Linked DNA regions of Homo sapiens. The protein of the gene in region 7 purifies or fractionates together with the protein of the main gene of each other region. This does not show direct contact. Each region holds a gene or a part of one and is shown on either strand. Other genes may lie near its edges. The genes, in order: RMP64, PUM3, PKN2, RBM28, HERC5, DDX27 and PDCD11.

What was found.
Region 1: the proteins of PDCD11 (region 7) and RMP64 purify together in Homo sapiens (affinity purification with mass spectrometry; one large-scale study listed by BioGRID and IntAct). This does not show direct contact.
Region 2: the proteins of PDCD11 (region 7) and PUM3 purify together in Homo sapiens (affinity purification with mass spectrometry; one large-scale study listed by BioGRID and IntAct). This does not show direct contact.
Region 3: the proteins of PDCD11 (region 7) and PKN2 purify together in Homo sapiens (affinity purification with mass spectrometry; one large-scale study listed by BioGRID and IntAct). This does not show direct contact.
Region 4: the proteins of PDCD11 (region 7) and RBM28 purify together in Homo sapiens (affinity purification with mass spectrometry; one large-scale study listed by BioGRID and IntAct). This does not show direct contact.
Region 5: the proteins of PDCD11 (region 7) and HERC5 purify together in Homo sapiens (affinity purification with mass spectrometry; one large-scale study listed by BioGRID and IntAct). This does not show direct contact.
Region 6: the proteins of PDCD11 (region 7) and DDX27 purify together in Homo sapiens (affinity purification with mass spectrometry; one large-scale study listed by BioGRID and IntAct). This does not show direct contact.

Annotation. Positions count from the first base shown.
Region 1 is NC_000003.12:113,013,172-113,017,555, reverse strand, and holds part of RMP64 (nucleolus and neural progenitor protein), read left to right. Parts: coding exon 1-108; intron 109-3,523; coding exon 3,524-3,603; exon of another isoform or gene 3,604-3,607; intron 3,608-4,152; coding exon 4,153-4,284; intron 4,285-4,384. UniProt on the Homo sapiens protein: May play a role in cortex development as part of the Notch signaling pathway. Downstream of Notch may repress the expression of proneural genes and inhibit neuronal differentiation thereby maintaining neural progenitors.
Region 2 is NC_000009.12:2,826,743-2,831,126, reverse strand, and holds part of PUM3 (pumilio homolog 3), read left to right. Parts: intron 1-98; coding exon 99-165; intron 166-1,178; coding exon 1,179-1,353; intron 1,354-2,348; coding exon 2,349-2,452; intron 2,453-3,975; coding exon 3,976-4,054; intron 4,055-4,384. UniProt on the Homo sapiens protein: Inhibits the poly(ADP-ribosyl)ation activity of PARP1 and the degradation of PARP1 by CASP3 following genotoxic stress. Binds to double-stranded RNA or DNA without sequence specificity. Involved in development of the eye and of primordial germ cells.
Region 3 is NC_000001.11:88,802,504-88,806,887, reverse strand, and holds part of PKN2 (serine/threonine-protein kinase N2), read right to left. Parts: exon of another isoform or gene 3,097-4,384; intron 2,498-3,096; coding exon 2,354-2,497; intron 2,043-2,353; coding exon 1,967-2,042; intron 1,392-1,966; coding exon 1,217-1,391; intron 998-1,216; coding exon 871-997; intron 1-870. UniProt on the Homo sapiens protein: PKC-related serine/threonine-protein kinase and Rho/Rac effector protein that participates in specific signal transduction responses in the cell.
Region 4 is NC_000007.14:128,301,757-128,306,140, forward strand, and holds part of RBM28 (RNA-binding protein 28), read right to left. Parts: 3' UTR 1-4,384. UniProt on the Homo sapiens protein: Nucleolar component of the spliceosomal ribonucleoprotein complexes.
Region 5 is NC_000004.12:88,459,672-88,464,055, forward strand, and holds part of HERC5 (E3 ISG15--protein ligase HERC5), read left to right. Parts: intron 1-423; coding exon 424-500; intron 501-2,463; coding exon 2,464-2,685; intron 2,686-3,860; coding exon 3,861-3,952; intron 3,953-4,183; coding exon 4,184-4,314; intron 4,315-4,384.
Region 6 is NC_000020.11:49,235,814-49,240,197, reverse strand, and holds part of DDX27 (probable ATP-dependent RNA helicase DDX27), read right to left. Parts: intron 4,049-4,384; coding exon 3,967-4,048; intron 3,866-3,966; coding exon 3,688-3,865; intron 1,250-3,687; coding exon 1,143-1,249; intron 963-1,142; coding exon 860-962; intron 1-859. UniProt on the Homo sapiens protein: Probable ATP-dependent RNA helicase. Component of the nucleolar ribosomal RNA (rRNA) processing machinery that regulates 3' end formation of ribosomal 47S rRNA.
Region 7 is NC_000010.11:103,398,950-103,403,333, reverse strand, and holds part of PDCD11 (protein RRP5 homolog), read right to left. Parts: intron 3,547-4,384; exon of another isoform or gene 3,504-3,546; intron 2,938-3,503; coding exon 2,806-2,937; intron 217-2,805; coding exon 49-216; intron 1-48. UniProt on the Homo sapiens protein: Essential for the generation of mature 18S rRNA, specifically necessary for cleavages at sites A0, 1 and 2 of the 47S precursor. Directly interacts with U3 snoRNA. Involved in the biogenesis of rRNA.

The DNA.
Region 1 (4,384 bases), on a different chromosome or scaffold from region 7:
TCGCTGAAGAGCCAAACCTTAGATGCAGAAACAGATGTGTTATGTGCAGTCCTTTACAGCAATCACAACAGAATGGGCCGCCACAAACCCCATTTGGCCCTCAAACAGGTGAGGAAGCCCGGTAGGTGAGACCCAACCTGTTCACTTGAAAATGTAGATCACACTGCCACTTACTATATTGCTATTTATGGAAATCTCGTGGAAATCTCAGTAAATTACTTGTGTTTTATAGGCCTATAGCCCACAGTTACATGTGCACTTTCTTTTTTTTTCCTAAAAGCATTTCAGCATTTCAAAAAGTAATTTTTGTTAGAAAAGAAGTATGTTTAGATTCTTTCCCAGTCTTGTTTCTAATAGGCAAGTAAACATTTTCTTCATTATATACAATCTATAACAACAGTGCCTTTGCCCAGCTCAAAGATAAAGTGATTTGAGCAAGACAAAATGTTGGACATTAAGAAACAGTTCCCTGGGCATAATCAGAATGCTAAAATTATTTTTAAAAAAACTTGTCTACTTATTATGGGGTACATAATCTAATTGGTGGTATGTTAGAGTAAATGGGTACATAGCAAGTTGTGGTGTAAACTGGTTTCATGTAATGTTTGGAGCTTAAGACAAAATTGGGCCCTCCAGCTCAGGGGCTATACCATAGAGTAGAGCCTCTCTTAAGCTGGCTTCCTGATATGCTCATTCATTCATTCACTTAATTCTGCAAGTATTTTCTGGAAGTTCAGAAGGCTATCCATTGTGTGACAGGGCTACCTTGCAAGTGTTTTTGAACTTTCTGTGTGCCAGGCATTCTGCTTAGTGCTGTGTATAGAGGAGTGAAAAAGGTAGACACAGTCTCTAACCTTATAGATGCATGCTTTCTGGTTAGTTTTCTACCCCTAGTACTTAAAGCAAACAGGGTGAAGATTTCATCAAAGAAAGATCTGGGACCATGGTCTTTCCCTAAATTTTCCATTCTAGGGTGGCTTTTATCTTTTTCGGAGTCTTTTTGATCCAAAAGCAAGCTTGCTAACCCTCAAAGTGAATATATTTCTCCTTCTAGCTTCTGGGTTGTGAATAATCACCCCGTCATCAAAATTTGGCATTCTCTAGTCTCTCTCTCTTACGTAGCTCTCCCATCCAGGCAGTCCATAAGACAAAACTTCCTCTGCATCTGGTCCCCTCTTCAGTTCTGGCTGCCATTTTCCTTTCTTAGACCTTGTCAACTTTTAGTTGTCTTACTATCATAACTGATGTTTCCTCCTTCAGCTTTTCCTAAGTTCTGGCATATTCTAAATATTAAAACCAGGTTAATCATCTGAAAACACAACTTTGATTTTTAGTCGTTCTCCATTGTGTCCTGAGTAAAGACCAAACTTCTTAGTTTGGCTTACGAGATCTGTGATCTGGCCTCTTCAGTCTTCTTAGTTCGGGCTTCTCTCTTGCGTTCAGATAGATTATATTCCAGCCAACCTGGACTCAACACACCTGCATGCTCACTATGTTTGTTCCTGCTTCTGAGTCTGCTTACCTGGTCCTGTATGTTTAGAATGCCCAGCCTCACCATGTCTGCCTGTTAAAGGCCTTCCTATCCTCTAAGTCCCATTTTAAGCCTTTCTGGCAGTGATAATCTGTGTTATAGTAATCTCATTTTAAGTTGTATTTTTCTGATTATTACTGAAGTTGCTTTTTTTTTTTTTTTTTTAAATTCTTGGCTATTTGGGCCTCCTCTTTGTACTTATAGCATTTAATATAGTCTGTGTCATGGTAAAGTTATTTGTGTATATATTTTATATTCCATGTGATCCCTGAAGTAGGAAACATGTTTTATGCTTATGTTACTGCTGCAGCTGCTATTACCACTTCTACTACTGCCTTACAACTGCTTAATATTTCACAGTTTTCAGAGAACTTTCATGTAAGTACTAGAATTGGCCTGTCTCTAAACATTCCCCTAAATGGAACACAGAAAGTAGTTTTGATTCCTGTTCTGTGGAGTACATGTAGGGCATGCTGGCAGATAAAGTGGTATTAGAAACTTCCCTATCTCTAGTTGCTAAAAATCTAGTAGTAAAAATAGGAAGACATGTAAAATATTTAATTAAATGCTAAAATAAAAACAGACCCTATTTAAAATTGCAATCTTCTCAGCACTCCCTCTCTGCCTTATTTGTCTTCATAGCACTTAACACCACCTGCCATTGATTGACTGCCTTTCTCTCCCAGCTATAATGTAAGCTCCACAAGGGCAATGTATTTTGTCCCTTTTGTTTACCACCATAATCCAGTTCTTAGAACAGTGTTCAGTAAGCACTCAATAGGATTTTTAATTTTTTTTAAAAAAAGTAAGAGCCATGCATGGTACAAAATGCTGTAGGAATTCTGTAGTCCTCAGGAATAACACACAAAGGGCAGCATGGGACTGCATCTAGACAGATACAAAAATTTGGATGGGCATTGATACTGGCAACAAGAGTATCTTGCCAGAGCTGCAAATATACTTCTAGAAATTGAACCAAGGTTATGGATTCTGTTTTAACAGCGGTTTTCAAGAATAATGGAGGGAACAATCCTTAAATTCTTTAGGGTCAGCTCCTATCTTTTTCAGTTTTCAAGTCTGGACACCATCCTTTGAGGGAGGTATTGACAAACCCAGATGGTAAAGCACTTGGAAAACATAGTAAGTGAACTGCGGTTCAAAAGAGAAAAAAAACCCAAGAGAGAGAAGGGAGAAAGAGAGAAGATGCAGAGGAACATAAGAACAAGCTTCATCTAATCAAAGAATATATTTGTTCAGTGATTAAAGCCAATCGTTTTCCTCATCTCTGTGGTACTTTATAGACTGTTGAAATTTAGTAGTTAATAATTTTCTATCTTGTTTTAATAGTTTCACTATTAAAAATCATGTTGTCGGCCAGGCGCGGTGGCTCATGCCTGTAATCCCAGCACTTTGGGAGGCCGAGGTGGGCGGATCACAAGGTCCAGATCGAGACCATCCTGGCAAACACGGTGAAACCCCGTCTCTACTAAAAATACAAAAAATTAGCCTGGCGTGGTGGCGGGTGCCTGTAGTCCCAGCTGCTTGGAAGGCTGAGGCAGGAGAATGGTGTGAACCCAGGAGGTGGAGCTTGCAGTGAGCCGAGATCACGCCACTGCACTGCAGCCTGGGCGACAGAGTGAGACTCCATCTGAAAAAAAAAAAAAAAATCTTGTCTTAGCAAAATTATAATCTTGAGAATAACCTATACTCGTTTTGGTCCCTTTTATGACATCAAGCTCATTGTGGCATATACTAATTTCTTAGGAGTCACCTGATTTTAAAAATGTGTTTGGCTGGATAAATTCCAAATTTGTAACTAGAAGCAATTGCTTGCGCTTTGGATTTCTCTACCCTGAAAAAAAATAAGGTATTCTGTGATATTTAGCATATTTCCATACTTTGAAAATCTAGAAGTCTTTGCTTTCCTGGTCATAATCAGTGACCCTGTCTGCATTACATACACATGAATTTGAACTGCTCTTCTTCTTTCAGGTTGAGCAATGTTTAAAGCGTTTGAAAAACATGAATTTGGAGGGCTCAATTCAAGACCTGTTTGAGTTGTTTTCTTCCAAGTAAGTAAGTGGTCCAGTTGCTTTGTGATGTGGTGGGCTGGGAACTCAATGTCTTGTGATCTCCCTTTGGATTTCTCTATGCTTGCTGTTGGAATATAACCAATTATACCTCAGCTGTATAAATTTTGTTTTAATGTGGGGTACCTGGTGTTTGTGGTAATCTTCTGACATTGATCTATGGGAGTGACTGGTGTGACATTGAAATCTGGGTCATGGTAGATTATATTAAAACATCAGTGGGCTGTTATTGTGCTTAACTACCTCAAGTTGAGCTTAAAGCAAGTCTTCACTTGAAAACTGCTATAGAAATGCTTTATATTTAAAAATGAAAGTAATGGGAGCTTGCACATAGCTGAAAATGTGAAGGGTCGCCCAGGGAGGACATGGAAGCTCTGTGCTTCTTCTGCCATACCTTGCCCTATGCATCTCTTTGTTTCAATCCTTTGTCATATCCTTTATAATAAACTGGTAAATGTAAAAAAAAAAAAAACAAAAAAAAAACCCTTTTTTTTTAAGTGAAAGTAATGTACTTTTTCTATTTTTTTCAAGTGAAAATCAGCCCTTAACTACCAAAGTATGTGTTGTCCCCAGTCAGCCAGTGGTGGAGTTGGTGTTGATGAAGGTTTTGGGAGCCTGCAAGTTGTTGCTCCGCTTGTTGGACTGCTGCTGCAAAACTTTTCTGTATCCTTGAATATCTTGAAATATACCTTCTTTTGATTTGGAATTGTTTGGATATTTTTAACAGTATTTTTGTTTGAAAGCTAACACTCCATAGGAGTTA
Region 2 (4,384 bases), on a different chromosome or scaffold from region 7:
GTTTTTATTTTTTCCTTGCCTGGGACAAATTTCCTCCCTTTGTTTCCAGAGAACTGAAATGAGATCTGAAGTCACTGTAATGTATTTTTGTTTTTCAGATGATTTGGTTGAGTTAAGTAAAGCCAAATATTCGAGAAATATTGTTAAGAAATTTCTCATGTATGGGTAAGTTGTTTTATGTATAAAATACATTTTTTCTTTGTCTTTTGAAGACATGGTTTCCAACTGTGCTCAGATGCGAGATAGGAAGTCTGTGGTCTTTATAAGTAATAGTAATGGCTCTCAGCAGATGCTTGTGTTGTTTTTAGAGAGTATCATCTTAAATACAATTATCGAAATTAATGTAAAATTATGGTACTGCCTTCATTCCTAAAAAGATACATGAGAAATGTCCTGCAAATCTCCTTGAAATTTATGACTTTGATGGAGGTATACCCTCACCTTCTGATTTGTTGGCATTCAAAAGTTTTAAAGACAGAGTGAGCAACAGATAAGCACTTTTGAAGTAGACTGGTATTGTAGCATAGTAAAAATAATTTTACATGATGGATGATTTGTGAATGTTTATCTTGAACCTCTGGAAGAAGAGAAATAGAATAATTAACTTATAATTAGCCACCAGTATTAAGAGGGTGGAGACTGGGGAGGGACAGGTGAGTAAACTGATAGAGGGTCAGTGGGTTAGAAAATGTCAACATGGGAGAATTTCCTAAATTAAGTGGAATTAGTACTTGTCTTGACCAATCTTTTTGAGTGTATTAATGTGCTAGAATATGATAATCAACAACAAAAAGTGTAATATATGCAGTTGACAAAATTTTCAAAAATGTATTCCTAGCTGTAGTTTCCAGCTGTTTAATTCTTTTAGGATATAGTTAAAATACTTGTGATTAAGTCCCATCTTCAAAAGGAATCTTAGAATATGATTTTCTATTTCCTTGAATCTTTTATCTTTTTTCCTGCCCTACTGTTTTTTTCGAGCAGAACAGTTTAATAGGAAATGACATTTATTGAGCATTTACTATGTGCTGGCCACAGCTTCTCAATGCATGCTAGCTCATTTACTCCTCAGAGTGACACAGATTGATGAGTTGGTCTTGGGAGAAGTAAGTTGTGTTTTATTGTCACCCAGCTTTCTCCTTCTATCATTTATTTTTCCATGATTGTGTTGCGTTTAGAAGTAAACCACAGATTGCAGAGATAATCAGAAGTTTTAAAGGCCACGTGAGGAAGATGCTGCGGCATGCGGAAGCATCAGCCATCGTGGAGTACGCATACAATGACAAAGCCATTTTGGAGCAGAGGAACATGCTGACGGAAGAGCTCTATGGGAACACATTTCAGCTTTACAAGGTGACATCTCCAGAAGTCTTTTTCTAGTATTTTTACTTTTCGATATGCTCTTCCTTAACTTCCGGTGCCCTATATATCTTTTGAATGTATTTTTACTGTGGCTGGTTCTTTAAGAGACCATCTTATGCCCTTGATTTTCCCTCATGCTTTATTTTGTTTCTGGTATAGTGAGCAAGTTTCTCTTTCTCCAGAGCATTGGCTTTAAATCCCCTTCAATTCAAACTTTGTTCCTCTCCTGAGTGCTCTGTGTGTAGCACTTCAATACTTCTATTTTTACAGTCATACTGAAGGACAAGACTCCCAATAGTTAGCAAAGTTGTGTGACCACCCCCAACCAGCTCTGGCTGAAGTGTATTGGGCTCTCTGTTGCTAGCTTCTCCTGTGTTTTTTCATGTGCATGCATTGCCCTTCTTCAGATTGTGTCTGGAGATGAAGGGGAACAGAGAGACCTAACCTTGGATAGAGTACAGGGATTGAATCTGAGAATAGTTAGCAGTGGGACTAGCTGGTTAAAGAATCTATTTCAAACCTTGGAACATAAATGCACACATGTGTCTGAAGGGATATGGATTGATTCCCGGGTTGCCTCCATTAGCCAGGTTCAATTCTTGGGTTGAATTTGTTGCTGTACTAATTTTGTTAACAGTTCGTTATATTTAATAGGAATAGCCAACTAATTATAAAACATATGGTGGCAAGAATTTGTGAAGTGACTACTTGATCTCATAATTGGGCAAGAGCTAGGTGCTTGGCAAGTAACTGTTAGCTGGTTAACTTGGTTGGCCTGGCTCTTTAAATGCACTGATAGATACACAGACTGAGAATCAGCTAATCAGGTTACTCCACAAGGATATACAGCAGAGCTTTCATTATGTAAATATGGGAAATCTTAAATTTGTTAAAACTTATTTTAAAATGACTAATTACTTTTCTTTTTCCTGAAGTGAAAAAATTGATTAAATTTAGAGGGGTTTGATTGTTTTGTTTTGTTGCAGTCAGCAGATCACCGAACTCTGGACAAAGTGTTAGAGGTACAGCCAGAAAAATTAGAACTTATTATGGATGAAATGAAACAGATTCTAACTCCAATGGCCCAAAAGTAAGAAAGTTGTTTTTGTTTTGTTCTTAAGAAATGACATTCAAAGGAGGAAGGTTTTCCATAACTGTTGCCCAGAAGAGGTAGCTATTTCCTGCTTACAAGTATTAATCTATTCTAAATAAGAGTGCAAAAGTGTTGGTTTGAAACCATTCTTGGTGCAAAAGGAGATTTCTTTTTCTGATATTGTACCCTATAAAATGATAACTAACATGCATTCGTGATTTATGAGCTTTTTTAAGCAATGAAACATTCTTTCCCCAAATAAAATGTTACATGGAAGCCATGTATACTAAACAGTTTCACAAATATAATCTGTTACTCAAATTTGGTTGTAGGCAAGGTACAGTGGCTCACGCCTATAATTCTAGCACTTTGGGGAACCAAGCTGGGAGAATCACTTGAGGCCAGGAGTTCAAGACCATCTGGGGCAATAGCAAGACCCCATCTCTACGAAAAAATAAGAAAATTAGCCAGGCTTTATGGCATGTGTGTATAGTCTTGGCTACTTGGGAGGCTGAGAGGCAGGAGGCTCACTGGAGCCCAGGAGGTCATGGCTGCAGTGAGCCATGGTTGTGCCACTGCATTCCAGCCTAGGCAACAGAGTGAGACCTTGCTTTAAAAAAATAAAAAAAAATTAAAAAATGGATTGTAAGACTTGGAAGCCTGTGCATGTGCCCTTCATGGCATCTGTCCAGTAGTGGAGTGGCTGAGCATAGCTTTTGGGACCCGACTGCCTGGGTACGACTCCTGGTTCCCCACTCCCCCAACTATTACTAACTGCAATCTTTGGCAACTTAACCTCCCTGTGCCTCAATTACCATATTTGTAAAATTGGGATAATAATAGTACAGACTTCATAGGAATTTTGTGAAGATTAAATGGGTTGGTTGTTCCAAAACACTCAGAACAGTGCTTTGCCCATAAAGGCAGTGTTAGTTTTTGCTGTCTACTTGGGTATCACCTGTGAACTTTAGGTCTTTTATGCCTGACCATCGGCCTCCACTGTACACCTGGATCCACCAAGTGTCACACTAGGGGGTTTGGATTAAGTAGGTGTTGTTGCAATTGCTGACAATGTTTGGTTCATTCAAGTTTTAATTCTGCTAAAATTATTTTGTGAAACAGATGGATTGTGAAGGGTGTTAACAGAAATAAAACAACTATTAAAAAAATACATCCACATGTGGATTTCTAATCATTATGTCCAGTGCTGGGGGAAAAAATGTAGATGTCCTTATTTAATAGAGCAGAGCATATTTCAAATGTTGATTTTATGTTTGCCGATTAAATACTAGAAGTTTATACTCTGGTCTTGGTTGTAGATGGCACTAAATCAATTTTACCATCTAAATTTTTGTTTAAGTTTTAGTATTTCTGAAAAATACAGTCTATTTTATGACAAATTGTATTCAGTAAAACCATTTCACTTGTTTAGATTACTTTAGGACTTTGAGATTACCTGTCTTTGTATGACTGTAGTGCCAGATCTGTTGTGTCTTTTTGCTTTTTTTTTCTGTTTTCAGGGAAGCTGTGATTAAGCACTCATTGGTGCATAAAGTATTCTTGGACTTTTTTACCTATGCACCCCCCAAACTCAGATCAGTAAGTTCTTGGTTTTTGTTTTTAAACTAAAACATGGAGGAGGAGCGGTGTAGAAATTTGAAAAACTGCTTTGATGTACGTTGTCTTGTGGAAATTTTAGAGTTGCTTCCTTATTTAGGGAAGATAATTTACTCAACTCCCTTTGAACACGTTTGCTAATTCCATTTAGGTTTTATTCCAGTAAACAATAGAATTGACCCTAGTTTTACTAATCATATTAAATTTTTATATCTTAATTATAATCCAGAGAGTATCCGCTGGCTAACCTAATCTGAAAATTAACTAACTCGTGGAGGAATATTCAAGCATTCGGATAGTTTTAAATTCAAC
Region 3 (4,384 bases), on a different chromosome or scaffold from region 7:
AACTAGTGGGCGTGGTGGTGCATGCCTGTAATCCCAGCTACTAGGGAGGCTGAGGCAGTGGAATCACTTGAACCCAGGAGGCGGAGGTTGCAGTGAGCCAAGATCATGCCATTGCACTCCAGCCTGGGCAACAAGAGCAAAACTCCGTCTCAAAACAAAACAAAACCAAAACAATGAAAAACTAACACATTATTATGTATGTTAATCAAGTTAGAAGAAGAATAGTATTTCAGGCAGTATGTCATGTAGTATCAACCACACTCCTATATTACCTCTAGTTTAAGCAGCCTATTCTATCTCTTCTGGACCATGAGCATCCAGAGGCTAATGACAATTTCATGCCAACATTAAGAAGTTGGTTGTCTCCTACCAACTCAGTCTAATTTAGCTGAGACTAGACCATAAGAAACATAAATTCGGCTGGGTGCAGTGGCTCATGCCTGTAATCCCAGCACTTTGGAAGGCCGAGGCGGGCTGATCACCCGAGGTCAGGAGTTTAAGACCAGCCTGACCAATATAATGAAATCCCATCTCTACTGAAAATACAAAAATTAGCCAGGCATGGTGGCATGTGCCTGTAACCCCAGTTATTCAGGAGGCTGAGATAGGAGAATGGCTTGCAGGAGAATCGCTTGAATCCGGGAGGCGGAGGTTGCAGTGAGCCGAGATCATGCCATTGCACTCCAGCCTGGGTAACAAGAGTGAAACTCTGTCTCAAAAAACAAAAACAAAAACAAAAAACAAACAAAAAACCATAAATTCACAGTTCAGTGGCAATTTTAAATGGAAAGACACGCCTTATTCACTATGATGCTTTTATTGCTAATTCATTCAGTGAAGAGGAATTATGCAAGGTTTAAAATGGCTTGCCTGTCCTGGTATATCCAAAACTCTTAATTCAGAAGATTCATCTATTTCTCCAAGAGAAGAAGCTCGTGGTGGGGCTGGAGGAGGTTCAGGCTCAAGATCAAAGTCCAATTTGGTTACTGTAGAATCACTTATAGAAGATAAAGTAACTCACCAAAACAGTAATAGAAAGTCTGTATTTTAAACAGCTTTAAAATTAAAGCAAACAATTTACTTTTTAAGTAAACAGAACACTACTTTCAAAATACTACTTGGGAAAAAAGCAAGACTCAGTACACCTGCTATAATCAGTACGTAAGAATGTCCCAATAACTTTGTATAAGAGATGCTTAAAATCTCAGACACATACCTAGCTGGAGGTGCTAGTTGAGGGATGCGTACATCAACCACTGGCACTGTAGTAGGCACAGGAGCTTGAGGGCTGAAGGTGCCAGAATGATTTACTGTAGGAATAGCTCTTCTTACTAGCCTTCCCCAAGTGGCAATATTAATATTCATTTGAGGAGCTCTGAGAAATGTTTTGCCTGTAGATGTTGAAAAAAACAAAAACAGCAAGTAATTTCTTTATGTATAACCAAAAGTCATAATTTAAAAATTCTTATCCATTAGTTTATAATCTACGAAGAACAAACAAAATTTGTCACTTAAAAAAACTAGTTTTTTACTATTTGCTAGTAAAGGCTAATGCAAAATAGCATACGTAGTTTTAAAAATAAATAGGTAAGAAATTGTTTTTTTCTCTTTAAGTCTAGTAGTAAGGTTTTAAAAATAAATCTTATCTTTTAGATATAAATTATAATAATTATGAATACATCAATATGATGTCTGGGTTTGCTTCAAATTTGAGAAAGTAGTGAGAGGATGGCATATGGATAAAATAAAATTGGCCATGAGTTGATTATTGTTGAAGCCGGGTGACTGTACATTTCACTAGTCTCTCCACTTATGGATACATTTAAAATATTCCTTAATAAGAAGTTAGAAATAAATGAATAAACAACAACAAAAAAACCCACACAGATGGCTATTACTTTTTAAATGGTAATTAGATTGTTTAAGAAAATATCAAAATGCTATGCATTTGATTGTTAGTAATTACCTTGTTGCTTTGAAAAAATTTTCTTTTGTCTTTGAAGTTTTGGTCTTCTTTCAATAACTGGATTAAAAAAGGTAACCTGCAGTGAAGAAAATTCAAGTTGACATGAAAATAGCATGGTTCATGAAATCTACTAAATTTATAAAATTTTAAAGCTTAAGAGAATCTTAGTTACAGTTTAGTCCAGCCCCTCATTTTCTACATGAGAAAACAGACATAGGAAGAATAATTGATTTGTCTCAAAGTCACATACCTATTCAGTGGCATAGCTCAGCCAAGAACTCAAGTCATCTGTCTTTCAGCCTAACACTCTTTCTACTTCTATATTATGCTGCCTACATATGTAATTTCAATTGTAGTTATGCACATTTAATAAAATACATTTATTACCTCTGCAAATAAAGTACCCTGTGGTTCCAAATAGAGACACATGCCATGCCGTTGGTTGTCTAAAAAATCTTCTAACCTCAGAAATTTTACAGCACACAGAGACCGCCAATCACGCCAATAAACTGAAATTTCCAGTTCACGTGACTAGGATAATTAAAAAAAATAATAAAGAAAACAGAAAAGACATCATTGGACACACACTTGAATAAAATATCACAAAAAATATGAAATACAAATACAATAAACAAAAATTACACACACAAAGGTCACACTGTTTTAAAGAGGTTTGTAACATTTCTCAACTGTATAGTACTTTATCAAACTTACACATTTTAATTCAAAGAAACAAAACTTACATTGTGACATTTTCCAGCTAAGGTATTCCTAAAGTATACTTAAAGAATACACAACTGGGAACAACCAATACAGATGAATAACCACCGAAACTCCTTCTCTTAGAGCTTCAATCTTTCAGATTTCCCTCCTCTATTTGCCATCATGTGCTATGTTACTACCCCAATGCTTGCTTCAAATAACTCATTTGAAACCTTTGTATTTATTTGTCTCATTGCTAAGCCAGAAAAAGTTCTGCAAATAGCATTTATTCTGTACTCACAATGTGCCACATATTGTGCTAATAAGCACTTTAAGAATATTAGGTCATTTAATTTTCAAAAGAATACCACTGGGTAGCAAGACCCATTCTGCGTACGAAAGGAAGAAAGGGGAAATTCAGACCAAGCTTTATACAGAAAGATATTCATTTATTATAACAATAAAACATAATTTAAAAAGCAAATTAGCAAGAATTTGAATGTTCAAAAACCAGGGACAAGTTAATTATACCAAAGCCGTATGAGAGAATACACAGTAGACACTGAAAATAATGCTTATGTGGCGAAATATATTTAAGGTTTTAATAACCAGTGTTTAAATGCACCTGTAGAACATAGTTCCTAAGCTGTGGCCAAACCATATACTGACCTCTACCTATATGTTTTAACGTATATACATTTTAATCATAAAGTACTGGACTTTTCTATTATTTTGTTTTTCAGGCTTCTGTACACCATCCACAAAAAGAGATAAATGTTTCTCCTTTTAAGGCTCTACAAAGCAATAAATTACTTATTTTATATAACAAATTTCAATTTATAAACTTATGCATTTCATTATGTAACGTTTTGGTATAAACAGTAAAAAAAAATCTATTGACCTTAAATTATATATCTAGTTGATGTTAATGAACACGAAAAACACTTATAAAAAATGCAACATGAAAAGAATCAAAATACAATGTGCCAGAGGGTTTCACAGTCAAACAGGAAAAGAATTAGAAAAATACGTCTATGGCAGTGAGAATGTGATCTCAGGGCCTTCCACCTCATTTCTTCTCTCTGACTCATAATTAATATGGGAGAGAACTGTCATGAAAGAAGTATGAGGAGAATATAATTAAGACTAGCAAATGGCATATAGAAGGGATGGGGTACTAAGGCTATAATATTCTATTGAAGTTAAAAGTGTTAAGTATTTTGGAAGCAGTTATTTTGTGAAATAAACTGGAGGAAGAATCATGTCAGGATTGGTAATTTAGACTCCATTTTTTTAGATTGGAGGAAGAGAGGTCTACTTTCTCCTGCTTTCTTCCACTGTTACAAGGAAGACTTGTTATGCATCAGGAAGATGCAAGATGCACATACGCTAGAGACAGAATTAATACTTGTTAAAAGTTCTTATTACACTTTTACACTGGCTAAAATGGTAAGATTTTGTCTTATTGTGAATAAGAGAAGGTCCAATCACCTCATTTGCTATTTATTCCAGCCAGTCTGGTAAAACTAACATATTGACTAATTTCTCTTTCCTCTGTCTCTTCATTCCATGCTTCAAACTAAAGTACATTATAGGCTGGGCAAGGTGGCTCATGCCTGTAATCCCAGCACTTTGGGACGTTGACGTGGGTGAATCACTTGAGGTCAGGAGTTCGAGACTAGCAACGGCCAACATGGTGAAACCCCATTTCTACTA
Region 4 (4,384 bases), on a different chromosome or scaffold from region 7:
CTGCACTGGCTATTAAGTGCCTGCTCTCTACTAGGGATTCCTAGGGGGTGGCCAAGAGAAGGAAAGACACCCCCACAGGAAGGATGGGCCCAGAAACTGACTTTCCATGGCTCCGACGAGGGGTCCTGAGGCACTCTATCGAAGTGCAAGTCCCTGAATCTGTGTCCCAAGCTCTGAAAATGCAAGAGGTGCTTGGAGCAAACAGGGAGTGTCCTGTCACTGAAGGTCTGCAAGCAGAGGGGTAAGGGACTGTTTGCCTCCTACAGATTTCCCTTCTTTCTCTTCTTCTGGGCCTCTGGGCCAGAGACAGGCATTTTACTTGATGCGATCATCCTCAGCACATGCCTGACACATAGTAGGTGCTCAGTAATTGTTAGCTGTTGTTATTAACCATTATGTGAGTTTAGAGTGCCCGTCCTATTGCAGAGAGGGAGAGAGCAGAGACAAATGGTGATTCTAAGAACCTGTCCCCTTCCCTGGGACTCACTCCAGTGGCTGGTCGCCAGTTGCACCCACACGCGGCTGGCTGCGGGCAGGAGAGCTGGGCTCATTCGTTCTGGCAGCTGTCCCTGCAGATGAGGATCGAGGGTATGTGACTGCCTGAGCAGCTACTTCAATCCTAATGTCCCTTTAATAGCTCTCGTCAAATTGCCACAGCTCTCCCCAGAGATTTTCATGGCTATGGAAAATAAATAGCCATTATCTGACCTCCAGGGGAATGAAGATGTCTGCAGAATTCGGGGAAAAGCAGTTATAAAACTGAGTAGAGCCAGCGCACCCTTTCCCTATTAGCAACCTCTAAGGGAGTCCTAGCTACTGCCTAGGAAATCACAAAATAAATGTATTCACTCCTCAGACTCTCTTTTTTCACCTATTAGTATGTATATGAGTACATTTGGCTTGTGGTAGATCAGGAGAGAGAAAGAAAGAAAAAACAACTACAAAAATATGTAATGATTAGTTAGTCCAGGGGTAGCAGGAAAAGAAGCTGGTCAAGTAAAGGGTTTAATCCTTTTTTATTTTTATTATTTTTTTAGACAGGGTATCACGCTGTTGCCCAGGTTGGAGTACAGTGGTACAACCATAGCTCACTGCAGCCTCAAACTCCTGGGCTCAAGCAATCCTCCTGCCCCAGCCTCCCGAGCAGCTGGGACTACAGTGCACACCACCACACAAGGCTAATTTTCAAATTTTGGGCAGTTTTACTATGTTGCCCAGGCTGGTCCTGAACTCCTGGCCTCAAGGGATCCTCCCATCTCAGCCTCCCATAGTGCTGGGGTTACAGGTATGAGCCACCAAGCCCAGCTGGAAGTTTTTAAAACGTTTCAACATTCAAAGAATGTGAGAATGAAAATGCCCTTCCTTTTCTTACCACCTAATTTGGAAAAGAGAAACTATTTTTTTAATCCCAAAAACATTTGGTATAGCTGGCAAAAAGTGTTCTGTTCTTATATATGAGACAGTTCCTGAAATAGGCCCTAGAGACAGCACTCACGGCCAAGTGGGACCTTGCTCTGGTACTAGCTCAGGTGGCCAAGGGGTTTCAGGAGAGGGTCTGGACTTCCCCACATCCTGCTTTCATCAGCTCTAAGACTAGGTGGTGACATCTGCTTCTCAATAACCTTCACCAGGCTTGCTGTGAAGGTCACCTGAGATAAGAGACGTGAAAGGATGCTGAAGATGCAAAAGCCTAAGCCAGGCAGCCCTGCTTGGCCTGGCCTCCTGGAAAGGGGCAATGCCCCAGCCCAGCACACAACCAGGGCCTCATGATGACAATTCTGCAAAACTGGTCCTTGGCTCGTCCTCCCTTGCCAGGATGAGACTGTGCAAAGCCCCACCCACAGGCAGCTGCTCCAGGTGTCGTTTAAGGGCTCCAAATTCCTTCCAACTAAAAGTATCTTTCCATCCCTGTTGGTATAGTGGTTAGGGGAAAAAAAATTAAAAGAAAATGAACAATGTATTTTCCACGTCAAGATGCCTGAACTTCCCATAACAGCTGTCACTTTAAGAAGCCATAAGAGAAAGGGCCAGGTCTCCATAGGTCATTATTCTTCCCAGGCGGGGTCAACTTCCTCTATTAACACCCATGCACGTATCAGAAGCTACCCATGAAAGGCCAAGGGCCTACAGCAAAGCTCCCATGACTGGAAAGTATTTAAGCATAAGGAACAGAATAGTTTCGAGGGAAGGATAAGAAAGAGAGTCGGGAAGGCTGGGCAGAACACTACTTGGACAACTAAAAAAGCAAGTGGGGACATCTCAAAGAGTGGGCTGGCCACTCCCAGAACCTGTGTAAGCAGGAAACAAAAAGCATTTATTGCTGGTAAATGCTTAACAACTGGCTCTCTGGGATAAAAATGTATATATGTACAGAAATTTATTATAAATTTCATTGATAAAAATGATGTGCAGCACATAATTTATAAATAAAATATACAATGCCATTTATTGTAATTCTAGAAAAGTTTTTTACAGAATGCTTTTGTTGATTTTTGCTGACTCTTCTATCCAACCTGTTTGCAATTCAACCATGATATGACACAACCAGACTACAAATAAATGTTTGTTACTATCTGATTCAACAAAGCAGTCACTCATTTCATGGAATGGATATGGGCTGTTACTCAGTGAAAAGACACATGAGATGGTTCAGTGCTAACTCACCCTTCTGACAGAAAATGCCAGAAAGTTTCCACCCCATTGACAGGCTTGGAGTCTTGAGTACCATCTGGGTGGGTGGAGCTGGCACTGGCACGAAACCTCTCCACTGCTATCCTGACAGAGATGGGGCATGTACTTCCCAGGGCCACTTGCCAACCCAGGGAGGTTTTCCATCTTGCTGGTTTGGTGAGGGAGGCTGCTTTCAGATTTCAAGTGGACACTGCTGGCCTGGATAGGGCTGAGGGGCTCTGCCTCCAAGAGGTGTTCTTCGCTTTGTGGCATTACCTCTCTGAAGTACTTTAGAGTACTTTACAGGCCTGCTTTACTCCTCAGAATCCTGCTGCAGAGCTGAGGGCTGGATAATTTCATGTTCTCTGGCAACTGATGGCCACTGTGGTACCAGAGGAGGGATGTATGTCTGGGCACTTTCAAAAGTATGTTATTAGAAAGTTGCGCATCACGGCCGGGCACGGTGGTTCATGCCTGTAATCCCAGCACTTTGGGAGGCCGAGGTGGGTGGATCACCTGAGGTCAGGAGTTCGAGACCAGCCTGGCCAACACTGGTGAAACCCCGTCTCTACCAAAAATACAAAAATTAGTGGGGCGTGGTGGCGCACGCCTGTAATCCCAGCTACTCCGGAGGCTGAGGAAGAACTGCTTGAACCTGGGGGGTGGAGGTTGCAGTGAGCTGAGATCATGCCACTGCACTCCAGCCCTGGGCAACAAGAATGAAACTCTGTCTCAAAAAAAAAAAAAAAAAAAGAAAGTTCTGCATCAATCCTGTTGTCTCACTGTAAATAGCATAAGAACAATGTTCTGGCCCCTCCCTCCACTTGAGTTGCCAGGTTCTACGACAGGGTCTTCCCCACCATGGACCAGAATACAAGATAGCATTTTTTCTGCAGTAGTATCCAAAGCAAAAATTTCATCAGAAGGATGGCATTGGAGTCTCTTTCAGTTGAAAAGTGCATGCAGACAATTGAGTGTCAGATCCAGGGGAGAGGAAAAGGCGGCAGAGAACTAGGGAGACAGGTCGAGAGTAAGGAGATGAAGGGACATTTGAGACTCTGAATTTTTTCTTTTTTTGTAGAGGTGGGATCTTGCTATGTTGCCCAGGCTAGTCCTGAACTCCTGGGCTCAAGTGATTCTCCCACTTTGACCTCTCAAAGTGCTGGGAATATAGGCATGAGCCACCATGCCAAGCCGAGGGAAGCTGTTTCTTACAGCTGGGTTTCTTGCACATCCAGACTTCACATCCCGCCTTGTGCATACAGACTGGGAGTCCCTTGGGTAGCGGGGGACAGGAATGGGATTGGCTTTGGCCATGAGGCAGATTAAGCAACACCTAAGGGGAGTTGCTAGTGGACCAAGGCCCAGACCACAATGCAGGGGAGAGGGAGAAAAGGGGTGGAAGAGTGACAGGAACTGATATTTTTTTAGCAGTTACTATGAGAGGAATAAAACTGGACAGGAAAGAAAGAGAAAATACATAAAACAAGGACAGGTTGTTCGGCATCTCTTCAGGAGATGACTGTCTGGTACATCCTTTACCACCATTATCCTCAATCACCAATCACTAAGCATTGCCATGTACCAGGCCCAGGGGCTGGGACTATGGGAGCTAGTTCTTATAGTGGCTCATGATCTACTTGGGAAGGCAAGACCTAAAGAAATGACAAGTAAGCCACAATGGCATATGCTTTGTCGAATGAGAGGGTACCAA
Region 5 (4,384 bases), on a different chromosome or scaffold from region 7:
ATAGTCTGCCTAGCCCTAAATTGGACTTTCCTATTCATTAACTCATTTGATCCTCACAATAATCCTATAAGTTAAATTTCTGGAAATAAAAGTTTTTAACCTAGAAAAAATACACATTATCATGAAATAATTTGTGAGACTTTTCCCTAGTAGATTATATGAATTAGAACTCATTTTCATCTTGCATTTATTCCTGCATCCTAAAATTGTTTGCATAATATTTTATTATAATTATGTAATGCATATTTTTTCTTAATTAAAACATAGTATTTAAAAAATAATTTTAGATGTACTGAATGTGATGCAGTAAATTGAAAGTTTTTTCTTGAGCTTCATTTCTAATTAAATACTATTAATAGTTCTAAAATCCATGTTGTAACTTTCATTATGGTGATTAACACAAAGTGTATTTTCCTTCATCAGGTTTGAAAGCATTTTACAAGAAAAAAAAATAATTCAGATCACATGTGGAGATTACCATTCTCTTGCACTCTCAAAAGGTAATTTTTCTGTAATATTAATAGTTTTGTAGAAGTAATACCTGTGTGTATATGTGGAGCCAGTAGAATGTCTATATTTCACTTGTAACAGGACAGAAATACAGTTTTGAATTTGATATGGTTCCGAGTACGATTCTTAAAGTAAATACATAATGAGAGAATTCTTGGATCTGTAAAATGTTCAGGTTTCCAAAATTACTATTCCTAAATTTGGTTTCATGTTTTTATTTTTCAAGTACGAAACAGTGAAAATTTTCTGAATAATCAAAACTGTTTTCTCTACATCTGATCCAGGCCTGGGGCCACCCTTTTCCAGAAACTGCTTCCCTTTTCCTAACACCTTTCCAACTTCCACTCTTCCGGCTCAGAATCCCCTTTTGTGGCCAGGCTGCAGACCTCTGATACGTTTTAACATTGCTTTTGAATTCAAGGATCTCCCTAGCCCTGTAGTATTTCCCATTTTCTATCAGACACTGTCATGGTGGGAAATGGAAGCAGTGAATATGAATTATTTCCTAAAGAAACTTGACTATGAGGCCAGGCTTGGTGGCTAATGCCTATAATCCCAGCACTTTGGGAGGCTGAGGTGGGAGGATCACTTGTAGCCAGGAGTTTGAGACCAGCCTGGACAACATGGGGAGACTTCATCTTTACAAAAAAACTTAAAAATTAGCTGGGCATGGTGGCTTCCACCTGTAGTCCCAGCTACTTGGGAGGGTGAGGCAGGAGGATCCCTTGAGCCCAGGAGTTTGAGGCTGCAGTGAGCCATGATCGTGCCACTGCACTACAGCCTGGGTAACTGAGCGAGACCCTGTCTCAAAAAAAAAGAAACTTACTGTGAATGGAATAATTAAGATAGAAGTAGGGTAATAGAGGGGAATTCGAAGTCAAGGGAATTTTTGTTAATATATAGGACAGATGTAAACATGTTCATAAACTGAATAGAATCTGGGATTCAAGGGAAGTTAATAATTAGTGAGTATTTGACCTTCATTGCAAGGCCTGTTGAGATTTGATAGTATGAACTTGTATTGGAAGAAATTGATCATTTGACTTCATTCATTCATGAACAAATATTTCATATTATCTACTGTGTTCGGATTATGAAGATGAAACACACAAGCCCTGCCTTTAAGAAGCCCAGGGTCTAGAGGCGTGTATGTACAAGGGTAAAGGGATATTCAGAGTTTATTACTAGTAAATCACAGTACAGAAAGAATAAAAGTTGGGGAAGCAAGAAAAGAAACTGGTCATGCTCATCATTATATTCCTGGTGGTTGACAGGTGCATGAAAATTGTGTGTGAAGGAGAGGCTCTGCTTCCCACCACATCCTGCACAATATCTTGCAAAGAGATTCCAGTAAACCTTAATTCTCTGGTGTATTTTTTTAGACTCTATTAGATATTGTCAGCTCTATCAGATAACATCTAAGAACGCTCCCTAAAAAATGTGCTCCATATATTCAGTTAATGGAAGAAGAAACTGACTCGTTCAAGAAACTGTAATTTGAAATTAATTTTACAGTTGTTTATTTGGGATCTTGTAATTTCAAATGAATTTTACAGTTGTTTATTTGGGATCATTAGGCACATGAGAGAAAACAGTAGCGCTGGGGTTTTTCATAGAGGTAGATTGCTTCTGTTTTTCATGGGCCCGTCCTCTGAGTGTTTTAAAGTAAATATTTCTTGAATTTGATTTATAATCAAATTTATTATGTTGAAGATATTATTTAATATGTTCAAATAGCTTCACTTTTGAAGTGAGGGATAAGGAAGTGTAACTGTCACTGCTAAAGAGAAGATTCTGTGTTTTTCTGTGGCAGACATAGGGTAACTGAGAGTACCATCAGTGCAAAGGTACAATATTGTGATATTATACTAGGTAGAGCATGCATAATGCTTTAGGGTAATGTCTGCTGCATTTTAAATGGAATAAAACAGCATTTGCTTTGTTTATGTCAAGGTGGTGAGCTTTTTGCCTGGGGACAGAACCTGCATGGGCAGCTTGGAGTTGGAAGGAAATTTCCCTCAACCACCACACCACAGATTGTGGAGCACCTCGCAGGAGTACCCTTGGCTCAGATTTCTGCCGGAGAAGCCCACAGCATGGCCTTATCCATGTCTGGCAACATTTATTCATGGGGAAAAAATGAATGTGGACAACTAGGCCTGGGCCACACTGAGAGTATGGAACACATTCTCAGATTCCTATTACCAACAGATATACTTGTTAGATGAATTTAATGGACCTCCCTGTCAAAAATGGTTCAAATCTTCACTTTCATTTTCACTGCTCTTCCTGATTACCTCTCTGTCTTCAGGGCAGAATCAGTCCAAGAGGCATACATAGTGTGGAAGTTGTTACTGTAATTGAGACATGTTTCAGGGCTGTGTGTGAGACGGGAAAGGGCATTGAATTAGGGATGAGAACCTGGATTCTGATTCCCACTTTGCAGTTTACTAACTGCAAGCCTTGCCCAGTCACTAAACTTTTCTCTAGACCTCATTTTCTTTTTCTGTCAAGTGACAAGTTTGGATGAGATGACCTTTAAAGCCTTTGCACTTAAAGTCTGTTAGTGTATTATTACAAAAGAATACTAAAATTATATTTAAGAACTCACATATCCTGATCTTATTCTATAAGGTATCAATTATGTCTGTAAACACACATGAAGAAACATGTAATTTCCATTATTGAACAAAGCTGATGGTGAAATTTCTCATGATCCCAAACAACTCATTAAGAGTTTTCAGGTGTAAGAAATTCTGCTGCTTTACCCAGCTGTGGTACTGTATGCATTACCCTGGATCACTGGTTACTCATTTCTCCCTGACACAGTGCAATGGTCATTACACAGAATAGCCCATAAGTCAGTGTTAGAAAAATATTCAAAGGAGAGAAGAGAATAAAGCGGCCATTAAACTACTTTGGCTGAATCTCTGAGTGCTTTTGACATGAAAATAATCATGAAGAAAAGAAGAGGTAGTGTCAGGTGATGACACTAGTAGATAATTTGAAAGAAAGGAATTGCTATGTTCATTAAAAGTAATTCTAGATGGCTGTTGGAAATATCTAATGTGCTGCAATTAAAGTGAATCAAGTCATAACTGAGAACAGGCTTTGGGAAGTGGTTTGACCCTTTCACAGGTGGGTGCCCCTAAGTGTGATCCTTTTGGCCACTGGTCCCACCTTCACCCTGAGGCGTAGAACTTGATCCTAAACATGGCAACATAGAGCCTTTCTTGTCAGAATATCATGAGAACTGTTGTCGCTGGGTTGAGAAGCAGCAGTCCAGGTAACTCCACTGTGAAACTCAGCATTTCCTTTTGGTCACTTCAGCTATTTTTTTCCTTACATAGGTAAAGATGATCCATCCCTTATTGAAGGACTAGACAATCAGAAAGTTGAATTTGTCGCTTGTGGTGGCTCTCACAGTGCCCTACTCACACAGGTGGGTGTACCCTTGTCTCTTTTTGGCTGTATTTTTAGAAGAACAGTTTGTATGGGAAGTTAGTGTTTCCCAGAGAAGAAAGGTCATCACTTCCTGTATGTAGGACTGTCCTTCTGATATTTAGGAGCTTTACTTTGACAGTGCTATTTATTAGTGATTCACTTTGCATCAGTGAATACTACTTTTTTATTTTATTTTTCTAGCATCTGATATGACATTCCCTTTCCTTAGGATGGGCTGCTGTTTACTTTCGGTGCTGGAAAACATGGGCAACTTGGTCATAATTCAACACAGAATGAGCTAAGACCCTGTTTGGTGGCTGAGCTTGTTGGGTATAGAGTGACTCAGATAGCATGTGGAAGGTAAGTTGTAAAGTATCAATAAGAATTGATAAAATGAGTGCAGCAAACTAGATAGTAATTTAATAAAATT
Region 6 (4,384 bases), on a different chromosome or scaffold from region 7:
CAGTGGCATTACTTACATTCACAACATTGTACAACCATCACCACTATCTGTTTCCAAAACTCCTATCAGGAGGCTACTCACTGACATCATTGAAAACAGAAGCTCTGCAACCACTAATAATTTCCTATAACCCCCCTTCCCCTAGCCCTAAGTAATCTATAATCTATTTCTGTCTCTGTGAATTTGCCTAGCTAGATATCTCAGGTAAGTGAAATCAGACAGTATTTGTCCCTTTGTGTCTGGATTATTTCATTCAGCTTAAGATTTTCAAGGTTCATCCTTATGGCATGTATCAGAACTTCATGGCTGAATAATATTCCATTGTGTGTATATAAACACACACCCCAAATTTTGTTTATCCATTCACTTGTTGATGAACATAGTTTGTTTCCACCTTTTTGCTATTATGAACAGTAATTCAAAGAGCACTGGCATCTAAGTATCTGTTTGAGTCCCTGTTTACATCCTTTACAACAGTGGTCCCCAACCCCAGGCTGCATACCGGTTCCAGTCCATGGCGTATTAGGAACCAGGCTGCACAGCAGGACGTGAGCATTGGGCAACCAAGCATTGCCACCTGTGCTTGGCCTCCTGTCAGATCAGCAGCAGCATTAGATTCTCATAAGAGCACTAACCCTATTGTGAAGTGCGCATGCGAGGGATCTAGGGTGTGCACTCCTTATGAGAATCTAATGCAACCCCCACACCCCAAATGTGGAAACATTGTCTTCCACGATACTGGTCCTTGGTGCCGAAAGGTTGGGGACCGCTGCTTTACAGTATAGAACTAGGAAATGGAACTGCTGAGTCCTGTGGGGTAATTCTGTATTTAGATTTCTGCGGAACCTCCCTGACTTACTTTTCTCCTTCTTCCTCTCTTCTTTGGTCTGGAACCAGCTCCTCTCGGGCTCTTGGACCACTGCCTCCTTCCCCTTCTCCAGGAGCCGCTTTGCTGTATTGATCTGTAGAGATAACAAAAGGATGCCTGCCGTGAAACCCGTATCTACTAACACAGGAAGCCACGGGCTGCAAATGCCTGGGGCTCTGATGGGAGAAACATTTCAGAAGGGCAGCACCAGCAGGGATGCAGCAGCTTGCTTACTGAGCAGCCTTGTGAACAAGATCCCGCCTCGCAGCCTCACCTGGGCTTCTGACTGCTGCATCTCTTTTTCCTCCGCCTCTAGCTGCAGAACTGCATACACATCTTTCTCCATTTTCTCAATCTTGTCCCGGAATTTGAGGATGACATCTCAATGGGAGAAAATAAAAAGGATTTACAAATAAGGGTAGGCCAGGCATGGTGGCTCACACCTGTAACCCGGCACTCTGGGAGATTGAGGTGGGAGGATTGCTTGAGCCCAGGAATTTGAGGCCAGCCTGGGCAACGTGGCCAGACTCTGTCTCTACAAAAAAAAAAAAAAAAAAAAAAAAAGCCAGGCACAGTGGCTCATGCCTGTAATCCCACGCTTTGGGAGGCCAAGGCAGGTGGATCACCTGAGGTCAGGAGTTTGAGACCAGCTTGGCCAATGCTGTGAAACCCCGTCTCTATTAAAAATACAAAAATCAGCTGGGTGTGGGGGCACACGCCTGTAATCCCAGCTACTACTCAGAAGGCTGAGGCAGGAGAACTGCTTGAACCCACGAGGCGGAGGCTGCAGTAAGCCAAGATGACACCACTACACTCCAGCCTGGGCAAAAGAGCGAGACTCCATCTAAAAAAAAAAAAAAAATTAGCCATCATGGTGGCACACACCTGTAGTCCCACCTACTCAGGAGGCTGAGGAGAAGAACTGCTTGAACCCAGGAGTTCGAGGCAACAGTAAGCTATGATCGCACCCCTGTACCCCAGCCTGGGCAACAAAGCAAGACCTTATCTTAAACAAAATAAGGCAGTGGCTCAAGCCTGTAATCCCAGCACTTTGGGAGGCCAAGGCGGGTGGATCACGAGGTCAAGAGATCGAGACCATCCTGGACAACATGGTGAAACCCCACCTGTACTAAAAATATAAAAATTAGCTGGGCGTGGTGGCATGCACCTGTAGTCCCAGCTACTTGGGAGGCTGAGGCAGGAGGATCACTTGAACCCGGGACGCAGAGGTTGCAATGGGCCGAGATCGCACCACTGCACTCCAGCCTGGCAACAGAGCAAGACTCCATCTCAAAAATAAATTAAATAAAATAAAATAAGGGTGACTACTAATACTGTGTAACTGATGAAAATAATTTAGCTGTGCATTTACTGACATAGGAAATGGTGTCTGTAATGTGTGCCTTCTCTGCTTCATATCCCCCAGACTCAGAGTGGCCCCTGCCTACCGCTCTGATCTTCTGTGTGTCCCTGCTCACCACGCCTGAGCCTCCTGACCTTTCTCTTGTTCTCACACACTAAGCTCGTTCCTACCTCACAGCCTCCACCCTTGTTCTCTCAGCTCAGCACTTTGCCCTCAGACCTCTCATGGCTGCCTCATTCCGATCACCCAGGACTCAGCTCCAATGCCAGCTGTGCAGAGGCCTTTCCTTAACAGCTTAATGAGGCAGTCTCCTCCTGCTGTTCTCAATCACATCTACTGTTAGCTTATTTATTGTCTCTTTCTCCCAGAACCACAGCTCTGCTTTGTTCCCTGCTGTATCCCCAGCACCTAGAACAGAATCAATAGCACTAGGCCCACAGCAGGACTCAATAACTAGTCGCTGATTAAATGAAGACAATGAAAATGAAAAAAATAAAAGGGACATTTAAGAAAGGAAAAATGGTTTGAAAAGACATACACCTAAATGCTACCAGTGGTGAGCTCTTTGACACAGAATTACATTTTTTTTTATTTACTAATTTCCAACAATAAATACGTACTTTTCATTTCATTTTTTAGAGACAGGGTCTTGCACTTTTGCCCAGGCTGCAGTGCAGTGGCACAATCATAGCTCACTGCAGCCTCAACCTCCTGGATTTAAGAGATCTCCTGCCTCAGCCTTCTGAATAGCTGGGACTACAGGCACACACCACCATGCCCAGCTAATTTTTTTTTTTTAGAGACAGGCAGCTCACTATATTGCTCAGGTTGGTCTTGAACTCCTGGCCTCTAGCAATCCTCCTGCCTTGGCCTCCCAAAGTGCTGGGTTATAGGCAAGAGCTACCATGCTCAGGCTAAATATGTATTATTTTTATAACTTTAAAAATTTTTAAGGCTGGGCATGGTGGCTCATTACTGTTAATCCCGGCACTTTGGGAGGCAGAAGGTGGGTGGATTGCTTGAGCCTAGGAATTCAAGAACAAAACAAAACAAAAAAAGACTTTAAAGAGGATGTGCTTTATAAGACCCCCACAGATCAGAGGAACAAAATCAATGAAAGGACCCAAAAAGAATGAGTACTGATCTCTCTCTTCCCCACCACCAACAGTAAGGGAAAGAGGAGTTTAGTGAGAATTTTGCCCCAAGCAACCTTCTCTTCTCAATTTCCACCTAAATGGGGCACTGTGTTTACAATTCTGTCATAATTCCCTTCTACACACAGGAGGCAAGCTCAGAGAGGTGAGGTGAAACCTGCACATGGTCACTCGGCAAGGAAGCAGCAGGGCTGGAATTCAAATCTGGCTCTGAACTGCAAAGTACCTGCTCTCAGCCATTACACTCTGTCCTTGCCCCGCCCACCGAGCCATTCTGCACTGCCACAGGGGTGCCTGCTCACCTTGGGGAAGTATCCTGGCCTTCACAGGGGCCTTGGCAGCTTTTACAATCTCCTTCAGCATCTTCCGCTCATCTTCTCCCACCAGAGAGACTGAGCGCCCAGCCCTGCCAGCACGTGCTGTTCGCCCCACCCGGTGGACATAATGTTTGATGGTATTAGGCATTGTGAAGTTGATTACCTAGAAGGTCAAAAATGAACGTCAGGCCTGGCAAGGGAAGGGGGGTGCGAAGAGGCAAAAAGACTTCCACCAAAAGTCCAAGGAAGATAGTGTCTGCTCACCGTTTTGACCCCCTCAATGTCAAGTCCACGGGCTGCCACATCAGTGGCCACGAGGATGTCAATCTGTTCATCCTTAAAACGCCTAGAAACAGTCACAAACAGCTGTTCATCCAGACACCCTCCCCTAATAATGCTCCACAAGAGCCTGAGCCAGCAGAGGACAGAACAGGGCATTAAAATGGGGATAGAGGCTGGGCACGGTGGCTCACGCCTGTAATCCCAGCACTTTGGGAGGCCGAGGTGGGCAGATCACGAGGTCAGGAGATCGAGACCATCCTCGCTAACACGGTGAAACCCCGTCTCTACTAAAAATACAAAAAATTAGCCAGGCATGGTGGCGGGCGCCTGTAGTCCCAGCTACTTGGGAGGCTGAGGCAGGAGAATGGCGTGAACCTGGGAGGCGGAGCTTGCAGTAAGC
Region 7 (4,384 bases):
TGTGTTCCACTTATTTTCAATAACAGGCTTCATTCGGATTTCCCTTACCTTCAGAGGTTGTTCTTGTGTCACCTGCTCATTCAGCTTTTTGGTGTAGGCATCACAGATTTCAGTGACTTGCACAAAGCCCTGGAGGCCATTGGGGAGACTAATCACCAGTTCCAGTTCATTCACCTCTTTCACGCAACCCAAAATACGCATTCCCTCACACAGGGACTAGAAGAGAAAAAGTGAAATGTGTACAATAAGGATGGGAACAACAATAGGGAAGGTTGGAAGGTCTGGCTTCTAGTGTCAATTTAAAAGCTATAAGGCCAAGCACAGTGGCTTACGCCCTATAATTCCAATACTTTGGGTGGCCAAGGCAGGAGGACTGCCTGGGCTCAGGAGTTTCAGACCAGCCTGGGCAACGTAGTTTCTCCAAAAAAAAAGATTAGCCAGGCATAGTGGTACACGCCTGTAGTCGCAGGTACTCGGAGGTGAGTGGATCGCTTGAGCCAGGAGGTTGAGTCTGCAGTGAGCTGTGATCACACCACTGCACTCCAGCCTTGGCAACAAAGTGACACCCTATCTCAAAAAATAAAGATAAAAAATAGGCCGGGTACAGTGGCTCATGCCTGTAGTCCCAGCACTTTGGGAGGCTGAGGCGGGTGGATCACCTGAGGTCAGGAGTTCGAGAGCAGCCTGGCCAACACGGCAAAACCCCGTCTCTACTAAAAATACAAAAATTAGCCGGGCATGGTGGCAGGTGCCTGTAATTCCAGCTACTCAGGAGGCTGAGGCAGGAGAATCACCTGAACCTGGGAGGTGGAGGTTGCAATGAACTGAGATCATGCCACTGCACTCCAGCCTGGGCAACAAGAGTGAAACTCTGTCTCGAAAATAAAAAAATAAAAATAAATAAAAAATAAAAACCTACAGGAATTTTATAAATGAAAAGAAATACACATGTGTACATATCAGTGAACTTCTCAAATATCTGACCGAGCACTGTAAAAGGTCTAGATTATACAACAGTGTTAACAGCACTGGGATACTGGAGGACACCTTTGCCTTTTACATTATTCTGAGCAACCCAAACTCAAATGCCTGGCAGACAACACAATGAAGGAAGCCAGCTAGTGGAGACAATGGCAGTCTGGAGTGACCATGCCAGGTCTAAAGGACACAACCACTACTCAGCTCCTTGTCATTACAAACATGAGGGAATACGGGCCTTCTGCTATCAGTACTTTCAAATTTTTACAAGAAGCCAGAAATCATATTTTCATGTAAAAAAATTTTTAGTTTTCAGCCAGGTGCAGTGGCTCACGCCTGTAATCCCAGCACTTTGGGAGGCGGAGGCGGGCAGATTACAAGGTCAGGATATTGAGACCATCCTGGCTAACATGGTAAAGCCCCGTCTCTACCAAAAATACAAAAACTTAGCTGGGCGTGGTGGCGGGCGCCTGTAGTCCCAGCTACTCAGGAGGCTGAGGCAGGAGAATGGCGAGAACCCGGGAGGCGGAGCTTGCAGTGAGCAGAGCAGAGATGGCACCACGGCACTCCAGCCTGGGCGACTGTGCGAGACTCCGTCTCAAAAAAAAAAAAAATTTTAGTTTTCTAATGTTGGCACCAAGTCTAACAATTTTTTTAAAGTATCATATAGGACAAAATATTGACTCTGAATCTAGCCAAATATGAATGTTCCTCTTCAAAGTTATTTAACTTCTTTTCTTTTTTATAACTAACACATATTGGTGTTATCATCTAAAAATGTAAGGCAGGCTGGCCGCGGTGGCTCACGCCTGTGATTCCAGCACTTTGGGAGGCCAAGGCAGGCAGATCACGAGGTCAGGAGTTCCAGACCAGCCTGACCAACATGGTGAAACCCCGTCTCTATTAAAAATACAAAAATTAGCCAGGCGTGGTGAGACACCTGTAATCCCAGCTACTCAGGAGGCTGAGGCAGGAGAATCGCTTGAACCCGGGAGGCAGAGGTTGCAGTGAGCTGAGATCACATCACTGCACTCCAGACTGCGCAACAGAGAGAGATTCCGTCTCAAAATAAATAAATAAATAAAATAAAATAATTTCAAAATTAAAAAATAAAAAATAAAAATGTAAGGAACACAGACCACTTCAATTCTTGGAAATGGGTTTCACATCTATGAAATGAATGGGTAAGATGAGAATGACTGCTAAAGTTACTGTCCATTCTAACCTCTGAATATATCAGAACTCAAGTCCTGTGAGGACACAAACAAGCCCACGACAGCTTTAAAGGAAAAAAAGGGGGCAGGCACGGTGGGTAGCTCATGTCTATAATCCCAACACTTCGGGAGGTTGAGGCAGGAGGATTGCTTGAGCACAGGAGTTCGAGACCAACCTGGGCAAAATAGCAAGATCCAAGCCCTACAAAAGATTTAAAAATTAGCTGGGCATGGTGACACACACCTTTAGTAGTCCCAATTTCTCAGGAGAAGCTGAGGCAGGAAGATTGCTTGAGCCCAGGAGTTCAAGACTAAAGTGAGCTATGATCATGCCTGCATTCCAGCCTGAGCAACAGAGTCAGGCCTGTCTCTGGAAAATAATAAATAAATACAAAGAAAAAGAAAAGATTCCTGGCATCGGTTAGCAATGGAAGGAAATCATGCTTACTCCTTAGCATAAATTCCAAGCATCTCTACACACACACGCATGAAATATAATATATTAAGGGGAAAATGGAATTAAGGGAAAAAAGAAGGAAAGAAGAAAAAAAGAACATACACAAACTTAAGCAACCAAGGTCGATTGTTTAAATGAAAACCAACTTTAACAAACCTCAACACTAAGGATTTCAAACTTCTCTCTTGCGGACTTGCTGCTTTCTCTCTTTTCGATTTTCAACTTTTTTGTTTTTGCTGGCCCCTTCTGGCTCTTTTTTCTTTTGGTGGATCCCTCTTCAGTAGAAATCTAGAAGCGGGTAGGGGGAGCCCACAAAGACCCAAAAGAATAAGAAGCAATCTGAGTTTTCCCTCCTATTTCAGGTCATCACTCACCTTGCTTTGTTACTCCTTCACTCCACCCTACCCCATCCCACTCCCAATTGTTCCTTTAATTCTTGCTTAAAAAAAAAAAAAAAAGGGGGGGGGCCGCCAATGTTCCCTCTGCCCAAGGTCTGAGAAGCCTCCTTCATGTTCCCAAAGTCTCTTCTCTCTTGTGTTCTCCCTCTCTTGACTGGGATGAACACTGGGTTCCCCAGTTTGAGAAGCAATGTAGAATAGTGCATGAAAATGGACACCAGAGTTACACAGACCCAAGTTAAATTCTCATCTTTTCCACCATAACAAGCTATGTGGTTTCAGCTAAATTATATAAAATCCAGGCACAGTGGCTCACACCAGTAATCCCAACACTTTGGGAGGCCAAGGCGGGAAGATCACTTGAGATTAGGAGTTCAAGACCAGCCTGGCCAACAGGCTGTATTTTTTTTTCCACTAAAAATACAAAAAAATTAAGCCGAGCATGGCAGCACGCACCTATAGTCCCAGGTACTCGGGAGGCTGATACAGGAGAATTGCTTGAACCAAGAAGTGGAGGTTGCAGTGAGCTGAGATCACAACACTGCACTTCAGCCTGGGCGACAGAGCAAGACACTGTTCCTCATCATGGAATTGCAATCAGTGCTTCACAGTACAGTTGAAAAGATTACATAATACAGACCTAAAGCCACACACTCAAATGTTAGTTCCCTTTCCCCAAGCATTTGGAGCACAGCCTAGTCTAGGTGAGACTGTGAAGTCTAATGCAAATTCTGACCATTACATGTGGCAAGGAACCCCTGTAAAAATGCAATGATCAGTCAGACACAGTGGAACATGCCTGTTGTTCCAGTTACTCAGGAGGCTAAGGAGGGAGGATCGACTGAGCCCAGGAGTTTAAGTCCAGCCTGAGTAACAGAGTGAAACATCATCTCTCCCCATCTCTTGAAAAAACAACAACAAAAATAACAAAAACATCAGCTGGGTGCAGTGGCTCACACCTGCCATCCCAGCACTTTGGGAGGTCAAGGTGAGCAGATCATCTGAGGTCAGGAGTTTCAGACCAGCCTGGCCAACATGGTGAAACCCCATCTCTAACAAAAATACAAAAATTAGTCAGGTATGGTAGCAGGCACCTGTAATCCCAGCTACTCACGCCACTGCACTTCAGCATGGGCAACAGAGTAAGACTTCGTCTCAAAAAAAAAAAAAAAAAAAAAACTGCTTCCTCTCCATCCTTAATCAACATGGCACATGGCAAAGAGTGTCTAAGAACAAGGAACAGCACTTTATTTATTTTGTTTGTGTGTTTTTTGAGACAGAGTCTCACTCTGTCGCCCAGGCAGGAGAGCAGTGGCACAATATTGGGTCAGTGCAAC